3 separate regions of the Homo sapiens genome follow, and regions 2 and 3 are each linked to region 1. The links come from fine-mapping of genetic effects on gene expression. A gene starts in region 1. Each other region holds a variant in brackets. All regions are shown on one strand. Distances are from middle to middle.

Evidence for each region. PIP is the estimated chance that this variant, and not a neighbour inherited with it, causes the effect. A credible set is the group of variants that fine-mapping cannot tell apart.
Region 2: its variant is the best candidate, but not a certain one, in a credible set for the expression of AHRR in whole blood (TOPMed, PIP 0.70).
Region 3: its variant is the best candidate, but not a certain one, in a credible set for the expression of AHRR in tibial nerve (GTEx, PIP 0.84).

What each region holds. Positions count from the first base shown.
Region 1 is chr5:318,779-324,015 of GRCh38, forward strand. AHRR (aryl hydrocarbon receptor repressor) reads left to right here and starts at 2,936. Exons shown (of 11, transcript NM_001377236.1): 1 at 2,936-3,041. The region is part of intron 3 of PDCD6-AHRR (PDCD6-AHRR readthrough (NMD candidate)); the gene reads left to right. RefSeq lists enhancers at 1-38, 3,172-3,739, 3,828-3,947 and silencers at 2,148-2,407, 2,558-3,047, 3,138-3,517, 3,528-3,587.
Region 2 is chr5:192,440-197,676 of GRCh38, forward strand. LRRC14B (leucine rich repeat containing 14B) reads left to right here. Exons shown (of 2, transcript NM_001080478.3): 2 at 2,269-3,895. The coding sequence ends at 2,914. CCDC127 (coiled-coil domain containing 127) reads right to left here. Exons shown (of 3, transcript NM_145265.3): 3 at 4,429-5,237. LOC124900929 (a long non-coding RNA gene) reads right to left here and starts at 2,288. Exons shown (of 2, transcript XR_007058670.1): 1 at 1,923-2,288; 2 at 289-549. The variant C/T (reference allele first, on the strand shown) is at 3,068.
Region 3 is chr5:229,496-234,732 of GRCh38, forward strand. SDHA (succinate dehydrogenase complex flavoprotein subunit A) reads left to right here. Exons shown (of 15, transcript NM_004168.4): 7 at 1,381-1,505; 8 at 3,982-4,150. Among named protein-coding and RNA genes, the nearest start is that of SDHA, 14 kb to the left of the region's middle. The variant C/A (reference allele first, on the strand shown) is at 2,991.

The DNA of each region.
Region 1 (5,237 bases):
GGGCTCCTGACCTGGCCTGCCTGTGGGAGGCAAAGGTGTGGCCAGGAGAGGACAGGAGGGGGCAGTCACAGTCACCACTCCTGGAGGCCCATGAAGAGCAGCTTTGCCCCCACACTTCTGTGAAGCCAACTTGGGCCTGTTTGGGAGGGGCCTGGCGCTGCAGCCGGCCGTGGGCACCTGCCATGTGGCGGTCCACTGGAGGCCAAGTCCAGCTCATATGGCTCTGGGGACCCACCGCACCAGACTCCAGTGTGGGGGTACCCGGAGCTGGGGGTGGGTCCTCGGAGGCTTCCAGTCCTGCCCCAGCTGCCATCCCTGCCAGGTGTTAGCGCCTCTGGTTCAGAGTCCCGAGAGGACCAGTGGCCCAGGAGAAAGGGGTGTGTCTCCAGCTGCTGGGAGTGTGGGTGGGAGCCAGAGGGTTCAATGACACTGGGGACAGCAAGTCCGGACTGGAGGGAGGAGACCTCCTGAACAGGGTCCCCAGCACAGAGGCAGAAAGGAGACTCTGTGACTGGGGGTGTCAGCTGCATCTGGACCTTCGTGGTGGGGAGGGAGGCACGCCCAATAGCCCGTCTGAACGGGAGGTGGCTCAGGGATCCCCCATTGTGCTGGTGGGGTGCCCAGAGACTCCAGGACTCCACGTGGGGCTCTGCCTGCTAAACCCTGAGACTTTAGGGGCAGTGGCTCCCACGGCAGGGTCATCCTTTTTCTGCACAGTCCCACTGGCTGCCCCAGGTCCTGCAGAGACCTGAGACTTTGGGGACAAGCACAGGGGACAGGTGGGCGTGGATGGCCTGTGCCGGTCAAGGGCAGTGGGAAGGAAGGAGGAGCAGTTTCCTTCTGTACCCAGGAAATAGAGTAACAAAGTGTCTCATTCCAGTTGGTTCTGGTGGGACAGGGTAGGTGGAAGGGAACCCGTGCTTGCCCTGAGACATGGGGGTGCTGTCTTCCCATGCAGGGGGACTGCGGCTCACCACCATCACATTCTACCCACAGGTTCTTATTTTAACAGATCACAAAGGTACTATGTGCTTCTTGCAAAAATTTACAGGAATTGTAGACTTTTCAAAAAGTAAAAAGAAATTAAAGTTCACCTGTTACCTCAGAGTTATCCAGCTACACATTTTCTGTGCATAATTCACTTTACAAAAATTGGATCAAGATAAAACTAATGATTTTTAAAAATACAGCAATATAGTTGCACATTGTTCCATATCAAAAAATAAATGTGTGCACCCAGGGCTCCTGGCTGTCTCAGTGGCATAGTGGCTCATGCCTGTAATCCCAACACTTTGGCAAGCCGAGGTGGGTGGATCACCTGAGGTCAGGAGTTCGAGACCAGCCTGGCCAAGATGGCAAAACCACTATCTACTTAAAAAAAAAAAAAAATTAGCCAGGTGTGGTGGCGCGCGACTGTAATCCCAGCTACTTGGGAGGCTGAGGCACGAGAATCGCTTGAGCCCTGGAGGCAGAGGCTGCAGTGAACTGAGATCGCACCACTGCTCTCAGGCCTGGGTGACAAAGCAAGACTCTGTCCCAAAAAAGCCCATTTACTCAGCTCACATTTTTGAGCCTCTGCTATTCGACAGGAACCAGAGGTGAGCAGAGCCGACTTGGTGACCCCTGGGGACAGAGCGGCAGAACTCAGCAATTCTGGGCTGCCCTGCAGGAGCTACACCCGGGGAGGGGCGGTGGCCACTTGGGGGCAGGGTGGGCTTCTCAGCTGCGCCCACCCCACCTTGGGAGCTGTGTCTGGAAAAGAGACTTTTCCTGAGCCGACAGCAGACAGCGAGTGCAAAGGCCCCAAGGCCCGCACGCCTTATTCAGAGAACAGCAGGAGGCGCGGGGCGGGTTGGGGGCGTCAGGGAGACGGGGTTTGACTGAGAACCTGGGGGCGCCAGTGACAGCCTCGGCCGCGTTGCTGAAAACCGACCTTGCGGGATGAAGAGGGCGCGGTTCCCCCGGCTGGGATGAGGACCGCGGATGCTGAGGAGCGGACTCCAGGGACCACCGACTCCATGGCCGGCCCCAGCGAGGGCGAGAACGGGTGGAAGCCGGCCAGGGTCTGTGGAGACGTCAGGGTGCGAGGCCAGGCTGAGGTGTCCCCAGGGATCCCCTGAGGGTACAGGGAATTCAGCCAGGGCCTGCGCGCCCGGACGGAGGACTAGAGGGGGCCAAGGACCACCGGGAGGGGGAAGGAGAAGGCGCAGCCCGAGGTCGGAGGGGCCGGCGGGCGCGCAGAGGGCGCGGGGTGAGCCCTAAGGACCTGCAGGCAGGACCCTGCTCTCGGCCGCGCGGTCCCGGGTGCCGACCGGCGGGGTGGGCGGGGCAGGGGCACCCAGGGCCGCACACCTGCCGCGTGGGACCCTGAAATGCCCAGGACGAAGAACGTCGCACGGACGACCCTGCCGTGCCTGGCGCGCGTCCGCTTCCTGGGAAGCTCAGGATCCAAAAGCATCTTAATATTCTCTATAATTCGCCAAAAACCATGACTCCTTTTACATTTTCGAAACGACCTCATGGGGCAGGCGAGGGGGCACACGCTCTCCTCACTTTACCTGTTCGGGTCTACACCGCCCGGCTCTAGGGCCGGCAGCTCAGCACAGCCGGCCGCGAGCGCTGGGGAGGGGACGGGGGCGCAGGGAGAACCGGGGGACCCTGGGCGCACACAGACCCCAGGGGGAACGCAGGGCCTGGAGGGGCTCAGCGCGCGACCCCCGCCTCGGGGCACGGAGACTCCGGGGGATCACTGGGACGCGAAGGGCGCAGGGCGGACCCCAGGGGAACCGGATGGCGTCTCCGGTTCGCCAGGGCAGCTGGGGCAGCCGGACCCGAGACAGCCGGACCCGCGGGCGCCCTCTGCCGCCTCCCGGCCCTGGATGCTGCGGGGCGGGGCGGGCGGCTCGCGTGCCGGGGTGGGGCAGTCCCTGGAGCCGCCGCGGGTTCCCGGGATGCGAGCGCCGGCACCCGCCGCCACAGCTCCTGGCCAGGGCGCGCTGCCCCGCGGGTGTGCCTGAGCCTCCGCGCCCCGCAGGCCCTGGGTAAGTGTCCTGGGCGCCCCCGCAGGCCCCCGCCGCGTGCCGCCCGCGGTGGAGACGGGATGCGCTCCCGGGTGTGGGGCTGAGGGACGGGCGCCGGCGTCGGGACCCTCCTCACGCCGCATCCTCGCGTCGCCAGGCCCGGCGGCCCCGGGACGGGGCGGACACTCTGGGGTGCGGCTGGCTGGTCTCACTTAAAACTCGGACCTCGGAGGGAAGCCGCGGCGCGTCCACGGTTCGTGGTCCTCAGCGTCCCCTCGAGAGTGTTCTGAGCCTTCACTCCCCGGGCGTTCCGTGCGGGCCGCGCTCCCTGGGGCTGGGCGGGTGCGGGCGGCGGAGCGGGGCCCCGCTGTCGGGCCGAGGGCGCCAGGTCCGGGGGGCCTCACCCCCGGGAAAGGCCCATGTTCAGGCTTGGTTTCAGTAGCACCCAGTAGCGCTGAAGTCTTATTTTGAGCGGCCAGAATTCCCAGACCGGATGCCCTGAGAGAGCGATGTGGCGCCTGGAGTCCACGCTGGGACCCCTTCTGGGGAGGGGTCGCCATGGGCGCGTGACAGGCAGGGGCCACCCTCTGACCTCTTCTGCGAGGCCGGAGGTCAGAGACCTTGTGCAGAAGCGTCCCACGGGCCTGTCCCACGGGCCTGTCCGGCTGTGGCCTCCGGGATGGCAAGGGCAGGCGGGGAGGGGCTTCCTCCCTGGGCCTCCTGTGCGCGCGCACAGGCTCTCGTCTGCGGGGTTCTTGCAGAAGGGTGGGCGTGTGCGCGCGTTCTCCAAACGCCACCCCCACGGGGCCTCACAGCCGCCCCGGCCTGGCAACCGTCACCCATTTTACGAACGAGGACATCAAGGTAGGTCGCTCATCCAGCCTCTCAGAGCAAGTGACTGGCGGCGTTTGGACTCGGGCCGAGTGTGCCATACCCATCCCGCACAAAGCCGGGGCTCGATGCGGCCCCAGAGTCGCTGAAAAGCCACGAGTAACAAGAACTGGAGAACGTAGGATGCTGACCCGGCGGACGCCGCCGCCTGGGGAGCCGCTTCGACGGGGGGGACGCCACCGCCTGGGGAACGGCTTTTATTTTCGTTTTCTTACTTATCTGTATTCTCTAAAATGAACAGACACGAGTTTTACCACGGGAGAAAGGTTCTTAGAAAAATTCAGATTTCTCAGAGGAGTGCTGTCAGCTCACAGCCTGGTGGGGTTGGGAGGCCCCAGATGGCCCTGGCCGACCCCTCTGTCCCGTGTGGGACCTGCCCGTGAGCAGCACCCAGGAGTCTGTCGAGGCCCCACCCGTGGTCCCCGGCTGAGCCCCTGGCTGCAGTGGGTAGGGTCCTCCCCTGTCCCCCAATTACCTATGAGGCAGCTTCGACCTGTGTCCCAGGCAGAGAAGAACGCTGCCGTCAGGAGGCCGGGGACAGCTGAGTCTTGCCTCACAGGGGCATTTCTGTGGGGAGTTTGGTCCAGTCCAAAGGAGGCTCCATCTGTTGAGGTGAGTTCATGAGTATTTTGTAAAATGGAACAACCTATTGTAATAGCATCCCTCCTCCTGTATTTAGGCTAGGTATGGCAAGAACTGAGACACACTTCCCTGCCACCCCCTCGCATCTCTGCCAGTAGGGCCAGGAAGTTCAGATATGCTCAGGTGACCACCTGAACTCCGCGAGGCTTTTCTCTAAAGTATTATCAGCAACTGTTTCTCAAACTACTTTATCTTGATCCTTGTGCCAAATTATTTATTTCCTGCAACTGTGAGGCCCCTCCTTCATGTGGCCTGGTGTTCCCGGGAGCAGGCCTTGTGATCAGAGGGAGACGGCTTGTGGCTTAACAGGGTCTTCCCACCTCGTTCACCCGTGCTGGGTGCTGAGACGCCGGGGGAGGGGGAGGCAGCTGTGGTTCCAGCCGTCGTCATTTGCAATGCAGTTGGAGAGATGCCGCCGGGTGGCCCTGACCAGTGTTAAGTGGTTAATACGACACAGAAGCGGGAAAGCGCCATGTGGTCTGGGGTGATCAGGCATTGAAGGAGACTCAACGGAGCTCCTTGCGGAGGAGAGTCGGCTCACAGACAGGCAGGAATGAACAGGCCGATCTGCTAGGGGCTGATGACTCGGGTAGGAAAGACTTGGCGGCCCTGAAACACCTTGCCTAGCTCGCTCTTCCTTCCCTCCTTCCTTCCTACCTTCCTTTCTTTTTTTCTCTTTCTTTC
Region 2 (5,237 bases), 130 kb before region 1:
GAGTCTTGGGGAGGGGACTGAGGGCGGGCTGGTGGCTGCAGAGGCAAGGAGAGATCGTCCAGGGGCCTGCTCATGTCCAAGGCCATGAGGCTACACGGCCTCCAGCCTCTCACTCCGGGTGTGGCCACAGCCACAGGACAGCGGCCCCGCCAAGGGGCAAGAGCACCGAAAGTCAGAGCCACCAGGAAAGAAGCGGGCTGCCATGTGTGACTTAGGGATGTGGAGAGAATGCCAGTTAAAAAAAGAGAATACGGAAATTACCAAACAGACGAAACAGAAGTGCCTACGTGGTGTGAGGAGTTGTCTATTGTTGATGAACGACTCACCCCAACACTTGGGGGCTTCAAACAGCAAACACGATTTCAGCTCAGAAATCTGAGCCTGTCGGTGCCTTTGGCTCAGGGCTGCTGTTGGCCAAGGGTGCCATCTCATCCGAAGGCCTGACAGGGCGGGATCCTCCCAGTCTCCCTCGAGGGAGGCCTGGGCTCCATGCTGCATGGACCTCCCCATGGTGGGACAGGAGGCTTATGCAGGATCCTCTCAGCAGATCTGCGTGAAGGAGGCAGAGAGGGCAGCAGCTAGGAAGGGGCCAGGCCAAGGCAGCCTCAGGCAGTGGTGAGGGGGATGCCCGGCGGTGGGTCCAAGGGGGGTGCCCAGCAGTGGATCCTGGAGGGGGAGTGCCTAGCGGTGGGTCCAAGGGGGGTGCCCAGTGATGGGTCCTGGGGAACGGGGTGCCTGGCAATGGGTGCTGGGAGGGAGCCTGGTGGTGGGTCCTGAAGGAGGGGCAGCTGGCGGTGGGTATTGGGGTCACCGGGTGATGGGTCCTGGTGGGGCAACCTAGCGGTGGGTCCGGGGGGCACCCAGTTTTGGGTCCTGGGGGTGGGACCTGGCAGTGGGTCTAGGGGGAAGGGGTGCCTGGTAGGTACTGGGGAAGCACCTAGAGGTGGGTCCTCAGGTGCTGGGGGGTGCCTGGCGGTGGGTTCTGGGGGCTGGGGGCACATGGCAGTGGGTCCTGGTGGGGCGTTTGGCAGTGGGTTTTGGGGAGAAGTGCCTGGCGGTGGTAGGGGTGCCTGGTGGTGGGTCCTGAAGTGGGGGCACCTGGTGGTGAGTCCTGGGGTGGGGGGTGGCTGGCTGTGGGTCCTGGGGTGGCACCAGGCAGTAGATCCTGGTGGGGGATGCCTGGCGGTGGGTCCTGAAGGATGGGGGTGCCCTGCGGTGGGTCCTGAGGGATAGAGGTGCCCTGCGGTGGGACCTTGGGCAGGGGGCATGCCTGGCGTGGTTTCTCAGGTGGGACAGGGGCACCTGGCAGTGGTCCCAGTCCTGGGTGGGGAGGGACATGTCCTGGGCGGGACATGCAGGTGGGTGCAGGTGCAGGTGGGTGAAGAGTGAGGCAGCCTCCTAAGGAGAGGGTTGGGATGGGGCAGACCCCAGCTGTGTCCCCCGGCTCAGCGAGGACAGTGAGGCCATGTCCCGATGCAGTTCTGCTCTGGAGATCTCCCTTAGCTCAGAACCAGAGTAGGTCTCACTCCAACTGCCCCTGTATTAGAGCTAGGCTGCCCTACACCAACCAAGTCAGAATATGGGATGTGGGGCAAGTTGGGGGGTCTTTAGGGTTCCCAGGTGAGTCAAAGGCTGTACTGGAAGCCTCCATGGCCCTTCCCAGCTCTGAAACCATGCGGGATTCATCTTTGTCAGAGTGGAGCGGCACTGTCCTGTGGTCTCACTGCCCCCCGCCGTCTGCTTTCTGAGCAGACATTCTGTCCTGTGGTCTCACTGCCCCCCGCCGTCTGCTTTCTGAGCTGACATTCTGTCCTGTGGTCTCACTGCCCCACCCCGTCCACTTTCTGAGTGGACGTTCTCGTGGTCACATGCATCACTTTTCTCAGACAACACAAAAGCAGCTGTTGACAAAACAAACTTACCATTTAGGTGCTGAGGACAAAAGCCAGACCTCTGGGTATAGCTGACTTCACCACGTGGCGGCCGGCAGTCATGGCCAACACTAAGCGAATGCACGTGGTTGTGCTCTGGTAAAATGTTATTTATGGACACCGAGTTTGAATATCATGTAACTTTTCACGTTTCACAAACTATTATATAAATATAACAACCACTCCTAGCTCATAGGCTGTATGAAATTAGGCGGTGGTTGGACGTGACTGTGTGTTGACCCCATGATGGACAAATGGGTTGTTCCCATTCGCCTGAGCCCTCGGCTCCTTCCTGGGACCCTCCTCTCACCTGTGCTCTTTCCCCCGTGTCCTGCAGCCCCCTACAGACCCCGCTGCGAGTACTGGACCTGGCCAACTGTGCCCTGAACCACACGGACATGGCCTTCTTGGCAGACTGTGCCCACGCTGCCCACCTGGAGGTGCTGGACCTCAGTGGACACAACCTGGTCAGCCTGTACCCCTCGACCTTCTTCAGGCTGCTCAGCCAGGCTTCCCGGACGCTGAGGATCCTGACACTGGAGGAGTGTGGCATCGTAGACAGCCACGTTGGCATGCTGATCCTGGGCCTGAGCCCCTGCCACCGGCTGCGCCAGCTCAAGTTCCTCGGGAACCCGCTGTCGGCCCGCGCCCTCCGGCGCCTCTTCACCGCACTCTGTGAGCTCCCCGAGCTGCGCTGCATTGAGTTCCCGGTGCCCAAGGACTGCTACCCCGAGGGTGCCGCCTACCCACAGGACGAGCTGGCCATGTCCAAGTTCAACCAGCAGAAATACGACGAGATCGCCGAGGAGCTGCGTGCCGTGCTGCTGCGGGCTGACCGAGAGGACATCCAAGTCTCCACACCTCTCTTTGGAAGTTTTGACCCAGACATTCAAGAAACAAGCAATGAGCTTGGTGCTTTCTTGCTGCAAGCTTTCAAAACTGCTCTAGAAAACTTCTCCAGAGCACTCAAACAAATAGAGTAGTTCCTCCACTCGCACCAGTGACAGGTCTTGCATTTCAGCCTGCAGGTGCCCCGGGCTTTAGTCCTGGATCTGAGGCTTGGGCCCGGCATTCATCCCCACCACCACCACCACCAAAAGCAGTTCTTAGTGAAAATTGTAGGCGAGCCTGTTAAG[C/T]GTTGTAGAAGAGGAAGCCTTCCAGGAGAGGTGCCATGCGGTGCCCTTTAGTGGCAGCACGGCAAGGTTCTGGAGGCGGGGGAAGCCACCAAGAGACAGTGACAGGGTCAGCGGGGGCAGACGCCACATGGCAAAGAGCAGAGAAGCCCGGGAGGTGTGAGGAGTGGCCGACCTGGCCTCAGCGCATCTGGGCACTGGGCGCAAGATGAAGCTTCAGGGGGCAGATGTGACTGGGCTCCACAGCAGGGAGGGGGAGGGGAAGAGAGAACACATCACAGAAACTGCACAAAATAAGCAGCCCATGAAAAACAACCGAGAAAAAGAGGCGAAAAATGAACAGCAAACCGGACCCTGCTTCCTCCAGCAGGAGGCTCCCACCCACTGCTGGTCACAACCCGCTGTCTGGACCTGCCGCTTACGGGATGAGGTGGGCCTGCAGGGAACGCGGGGCTTCTGGTTGCTGTTAGTGGTGGCTTTTCTTCTCACTTTGTGTAGCCCCCAGAACCGTGAGGGGCATCCGAGTGGGTGAGCACAGGCGTCCGCTGAAGAGCCGCCTGGACCAGGGCGGTCAGCGCTGCGGGGAGGCCTTTGCCCGACCGCGCCACTGTTTCTCACCAACATTCACTGTGTCCTGCGGGGCTTGAGGCTTAGACTGACGGGAGCTATTCCGGGTGTTTAATTGAAGGTCTAGCACTTGACCAGCCCCTGGAGGAGCTGACAACCACCTAAGACACATTTGGACTTGGTGTCCACCAAGAGTGACTTTGTGCAAAGAAATGGCTGAGCACTAGAATAACTAAATGCAAATAAAATGCGTCTTTCAGTGCAGTTCAGACAGGTCAGTGCTTGGTGTGGTTAAGTCGTTCTCAGACCCAAAACCAGGGATCTGAGTCACTGTGTGTCCATGGCTCCGCTCAAAAGTCACACCTCATGACAGCGCCCACCACGGGTGTGTCCCCACCCCAGGGGCCCCATGTCATCCCCTCCTCAGGTGTCACCCCCTCCCCGAGTGTGTCCCCAACCCGGGGGCCCCCATGTCACCCCGAGTGTGTCCCCACCCCAGGGGGCCCCGTGTCACCCCCTCCCCAGGTGTGCCCCCACCCCTGCTGCCCTGTGTCACCCCCTCCCGGAGTGTGTCCTCACCCCAATGGCCCCTGTGTCACCCCCCCCCGAGTGTGTCCCCACCCCAGGGGCCCCCATGTCACCCCACTCCAGGTGTGTCCCCACCCCAGGGGCCCCCATGTCACCCCACTCCAGGTGTGTCCCCACCCCCGCTGTGAAGGGGTGGCCTGCCCCTCCACACCTGTGGGTATTTCTAGTTGGGTGGGACGAGAGACTGAGAAAAGAAGTAAGACACAAAGTATAGAGAAACAACAGTGGGCCCAGGGGACCGGCGCTCAGCATACCAAGGACCTGCACTGGCACCGGCCTCTGAGTTCCCTCAGTTTTTATTATTATTTTCATTATTTCAGCAAAAAGGAATGTAGTAGGAGAGCAGGGTGATAATAAGGAGGAGGTCAGCAAAAACGTGTGAGCAAAAGAATCTATGTCGTAATTAAGTTCAAGGGAAGGTACTATGCCTGGACGTGCACGTAGGCCAGATTTATGTTTCTCTCCACCCAAACATCTCAGCAGAGTAAAGAATAACAAGGCAGCATTGCCGCAAACATGTCTCGCCTCCCGCCACAAGGCGGCTTTTCTCCTGTCTCAGAGTTGAACAAATGTACAATCGGGTTTTACACCGCGACATTCAGTTCCCAGCGGCGAGCAGGAGACAGTGGACTTCTCTCTCTCAACTGCAAGAGGCTTTCGTCTTTTACTAACCCATGTCAGCACAGACCCTTTACGGGTGTCGGGCTGGGGGACGGTCAGGTCTTTCTCATTCCACGAGGCCATATTTCAGACTATCACATGGGGAGAAACCGTGGACAATACCCGGCTTTCAAGGGCAGAGGTCCCTGCGGCTTTCCGCAGTGCATTGTGCCTCTGGTTTATTGAGACTAGAGAATAGCGATGACTTTTACCAAGCATACTGCTTGTAAACATTTTGTTAACAAGGCACGTCCTGCACAGCCCTAGATCCCTTAAACCTTGATTTCATACAACACATGTTTTTGTGAGCTCCAGGTTGGGGCAAAGTGGCTGGGGCAAAGCTACACATTAACATCAT
Region 3 (5,237 bases), 89 kb before region 1:
AGGCACAGAAAGACAGATACTGCATGTCACTCATGTGGAATCTAAAACAGTCACAACTCACAGAAACAGAGTAGGACAGTGGTTGCCAGGGGCTGGGGGAATGCAGACTGTGGCGATGCTGATTAAAGGTGTAACTTCCCGTTACAAGGTGAAGTTCTGAAGGTCTAATATACAACATGGTGGCTATAGTTAACATTATACAGCATGGTGGCCAGAGTTAACATTATACAGCATGGTGGCTATAGTTAACATTATACAGCATGGTGGTTAGAGTTAACATTATACAGCATGGTGGCTAGAGTTAACATTATACAGCATGGTGGCTAGAGTTAACATTATACAGCATGCTGGCTATCGTTAACATTATACAGCATGGTGGCCAGAGTTAACATTATACAGCATGGTGGCCAGAGTTAACATTATACAGCACGGTGGCTAGAGTTAATATACAGCATGGTGGCTATCGTTAATATTATACAGCATGGTGGCTAGAGTTAACATTATACAGCATGGTGGCTAGAGTTAATATTATACAGCATGGTGGCTATCGTTAATATTATAACTTGAAATTTGCGAAGATAGTAGACGTTAGGCGTCTGTATCTCCAAAAAAAGGATAATTGTATGAGGTGATAGATGTGTATTAACTTGATTGTGTCATCATTTCACAAAATAAATCATCACGCTGTACACCATAAATATATAGTTTTTTTTTTAAATTCATCAATCATACCTCAGTAAATCTGGGGGAGAAAAAAATCCATAAAAATTTTAAAATTTTCATTATAAAAGTAGTATATGCTTATTGGGGAAACCTTTTGAACAGCACAAAGCTAAAATACAAATAGGGCCAGGTGTGCAGTGGCTCACGCCTGTAATCCCGGCACTTTGGGAGGCCAAAGTGGGAGGATCACTTGAGGTCAGGAGTTCGAGACCAGCCTGGCCAACATGGTGAAACCCCATCTCTACTAAAAATACAAAAATTAACTGGGCGTGGTGGTGCACACTGTAATCCCAGCTACTCGGGAGGCTGAGGCGGAAGAATCACTTGAACCTGGGAGCCGGAGGTTGCTGTGAGCCGAGATCGCACCACTCTACTCCAGCCTGGTCAACAGAGTTAGATCCTATCTCAAAATAAATAAATAAAATACAAATGGAAGTCCTTTCTTTGATCCCAGGCTTCTATCCTACCTGTGCAGGGTAGCAGCACCAGTGGCGCGGCCCCTAGTGATATGTGTGGGGTGTGCGTGAGTAGGGGGTTGTGTGTGCACAGCACTGAGAAGACGGTGCTGGGGGCTGCCGTGTCCATTCTGTGATCTCACCAGATAGGAGGTCCAGATGTGGGCCGCTGTGTGCAGTCACTGCTCTCTATTGTTTCCAGAGGCTACGGGCGCACCTACTTCAGCTGCACGTCTGCCCACACCAGCACTGGCGACGGCACGGCCATGATCACCAGGGCAGGCCTTCCTTGCCAGGACCTAGAGTTTGTTCAGTTCCACCCTACAGGTAGGGCAGGACGCCTTGCCCGGCAGGTGTTTGGCTTGTGTGTGTCTTGTAAGCATGTGATGCCTACTCATTGCTCTTCCATAGTTTTATGTAATAACATGGTTTTGAAGATCAGCTTCCTCAGCTCTCAGGTCCTAACTTCAACGTCATTTACCTAAGGAGACTTTTCCCACACTCCCCTTCCCCTAAGGCAGTTTGGGCCACCGTCTTATGTATTTCTCAAGAGCGCTAAACCCTGCCTTGGTGATACTTAAGCCAGCAGTAAAGCAGGGATTGAGGCCGAGCACAGTGGCTCACTCCTGTAGTCCCAGCACTTTAGGAGGCCAAGGCGGGCGGATCACCTGAGGTCAGGAGTTCGAGACCAGCCTGACCAACATGGTGACACCTCGTCTCTACTAAAAATACAAAAATCAGCTGGGCGTGATGGCGTGTACCTGTAATCCCAGGTACTTGGGAGGCTGAGGTGGGAGGAATGCTTGAACCTGGGAGGCAGAGGTTGCAGTGAGCCGAGATCGCGCCACTGCACTCCAGCCTGGGCAACAGAGTAAGACTCCGTCTCAAAAAAAAAAAAAAAAAAAGTAAAGCAGGGATTGTTCAGTGTCCCTCTTCGCAACGAGGTCGTCAGCTCCTCGGGCAGGCAGGTCTTCTCGTTAGCTGTGGTGCTCCATGCCCAGCACATGGTAGGGTCTCCACCGGGGTTTACTGAGTGAACATTCTGAGAGCTGGGAGAATGCCATGGAACCGAGAAGCAGCACAGGCAGACTTCAGCTTTGTAGGAGAACACGGAGCTTCTGTGACAATGGGATGTAAAGTTAGGACGCAGCCGTGACAGAACCCCATGTGACATTGGGCGCTGGGCTCAGCCCACGTGACCACTGAGAGAGCTTGTCGTGGGGAAGATGAGCTCGTCTTGGGGACGTCTGACGGTTGAGGTTACGAATGTGCAATTCGGAGACATTAACTCAGAAATGACAGTTGAAGTCTTGAGTTTGGAGGAGGTTCTTCAGAATGAGTCAGAGACAGACACACACCTGCCTCTTGTTTGAGGTGACTTGTCCTATACTTTTCTGGGTTGCTTTTCTGACCTGTGGACGATGGAGACCTCTGAAGTGGTGCCAAAGAACCAGACCTGTGTCTTCTCTTTCTCTGTCAGTGTCAGCTTTCTGATCCCTGGAAGGGATGAAAATAAGAAATGAATTTGTTGTAGTGTTTTTTTTTTATTTGTTTCGAGATGGGGTCTTGCTCTGTTGCTCAGGCTGGAGTGCAGTGGAGCAATCTTGACTCACTGCAGCCTTTGTCTCCCAGGCTCAAACGATCCTTCCACCTCAGCCTCCCAAACAGCTGGGACTACAGGCATGTGTTACCATGCCCAGCTAATTTTCGAGGGTTTTTTCGTTTTTGGTAGAGACGGGATGTCACCGTTTTGCCCAGGCTGGTCTCAAACTCCAGGGCTTAGGCCATCCTCCTGCCTCGGCCCCTCAGGGT[C/A]CTGGGATTATAGCCATGAGCCACTGCACCCGGCCTGTTGTATTTTTTATTACTGTTTTTAATGAATAAAATGTCACTGAGCCCCTGAATTCCCTCTGTAATTTGCTTAGAGCTCCACTGCTCATGCTTTGTCTTCAGTATGTGAGAAGTAACCACAGAAAAAAGAGCATTGAAACTTAGAAAATCAAAAGACAGACAAGAATCACATTCGTTTTTTAAAAGCAAGATTGCCCTTTTTGTATACTAATAAAAATTGTAGCTTTCGAAATACATTTAGTTTAGGGTTTTTGATCTCCTTTGTTAAAATTCGAGAGCTTGGCATGCCCTGTTTCTCATCGCACTGAGGAGTCACAGAGCCGCTGTTTGGAGCACAGACCGCCGGACTACCCAGGTTTGGGTTTGAGCTCTGTCCTCAGCTGCATGACTGGATGTTACCAAGTGTTAATTTGCTTGTCACTGAGAAAGGGGGTCGTACTACCCAGAGTTGTTGTAAGACTTAAACGAGTTAATATGTGGAAAGCAGCTAGAACTGCCCATAGCAAGTGCAGTGTAAATATTATCTAAAATAATCATTATTACTGTCCTTGTCACTGTTTGGATAATTTAGATATGAATACTTCAAGCTAGTATTCTTAACTAGTCACCACAGTATCATAGTGCAAAAGAATGTTCAAAAATTAAAACAAAATTTGAGGCATCCAACGTACACTGGGCTGTAATCAGAGTATTGGCCAGAGGTCTGTGGGCCGGCCTTTCTCCTCTCTGGGGACACCGCTCTGCCCCAGCCTCTGCTGCAGCTGTCAGCCTTGTCAGTGCTTTTTGTTATCCAGACTTTCTACTGTATCTTAACTGTCTTGCTGTGCAGTTTTGCACATAATGCCTTCTGCTTATCTTTTTCCTCTTTCCCCCAAAAAATGTCTTGAAAAAAATAATGCATTTGAAATAGAGATCTAGCAATTGTTAGGTAATAAATATGTGTGGTTTTTTGCAGGCATATATGGTGCTGGTTGTCTCATTACGGAAGGATGTCGTGGAGAGGGAGGCATTCTCATTAACAGTCAAGGCGAAAGGTTTATGGAGCGATACGCCCCTGTCGCGAAGGACCTGGCGTCTAGAGATGTGGTGTCTCGGTCCATGACTCTGGAGATCCGAGAAGGAAGGTGCGTGTGATTTACCACCAGCACTGTCTGAGCGGGCACACGGGCCGGGGTTGCTTCTGTGAGTTTCAGCACCGCTCGCCCTCACCTTCGTGTGCAGGCGCATGTGCACAGCCACCTCTCTTAGCTGCTGGCAGGCGTCTGTTAGTCTGCGATATTTTCCTAAAGACCTACATTTTGAAAATTTTAGCCAGTTTCTTTCTCAAATCTGTGGAACAGAGTTTCTCTTAGTGTGTGTGAGTATGTGACGGAGTATGGGAGAGAGAGACACACACCCAACCTGAAGTCGGCATGTGAGCCTTGGGTGTTGTGTCTGATACCCACAGATGTTTTTTGGCAGCTTTCAAAGTGTGTGGGTTATTTGGCTTTCAGTAAAACAGTTTGCAGCTCTTTCATTGCCTGACCCTGTTCTTTAATGTAATGACATTTGCTAAATATCTGCTGGTATGGCCTTTAGAGGTTTTACATTTTTATATTAAAAAAACAGAGAAGTCAGGTGGGGCGCAGTGGCTCACGCCTGTAATCCCAGCACTTTGGGAGGCTGAAGCGGGCAGATCAGGAGGTCAGGAGATCGAGACCATCCTGGCTAACACGGTGAAACCCCGTCTCTACTAAAAATACAAAAAATTAGCCGGGCGTGATGGCAGGTGCCTGTAGTCCCAGCTACTCGGGAGGCTGAGGCAGGAGAATGGCGTGAACCTGGGAGGCGGAGCTTGCAGTGAGCTGAGATCACACCACTGCACTCCAGCCTGGGCGACAGAGCAACACTCTGTCTCAAAAAAAAAAAAAAAAAAAAAAAAAACAGAGAAGTCAAATGGTTTTTTGGAATATGGTGGCCCTCCGTACCCATTGGTTCCACATGTGTGGTTTCAGCCAACTATGTATTGAAAATAAAATTGCATCCTTACAAATATGCAGACTTTTTTTCCTTGTCATTGTTCCCTTAACAATACAGTGTAACAGCTATTTACGTAGCATTTACATTGTATTAGGTACTATGAGTCATCCTGGAGTTGCTGTAAAACTTAAACGTAAAACTTGAAATGAGGATGATTTAAAGTATAGAGGAGGATGTGCATAGGTTATATGC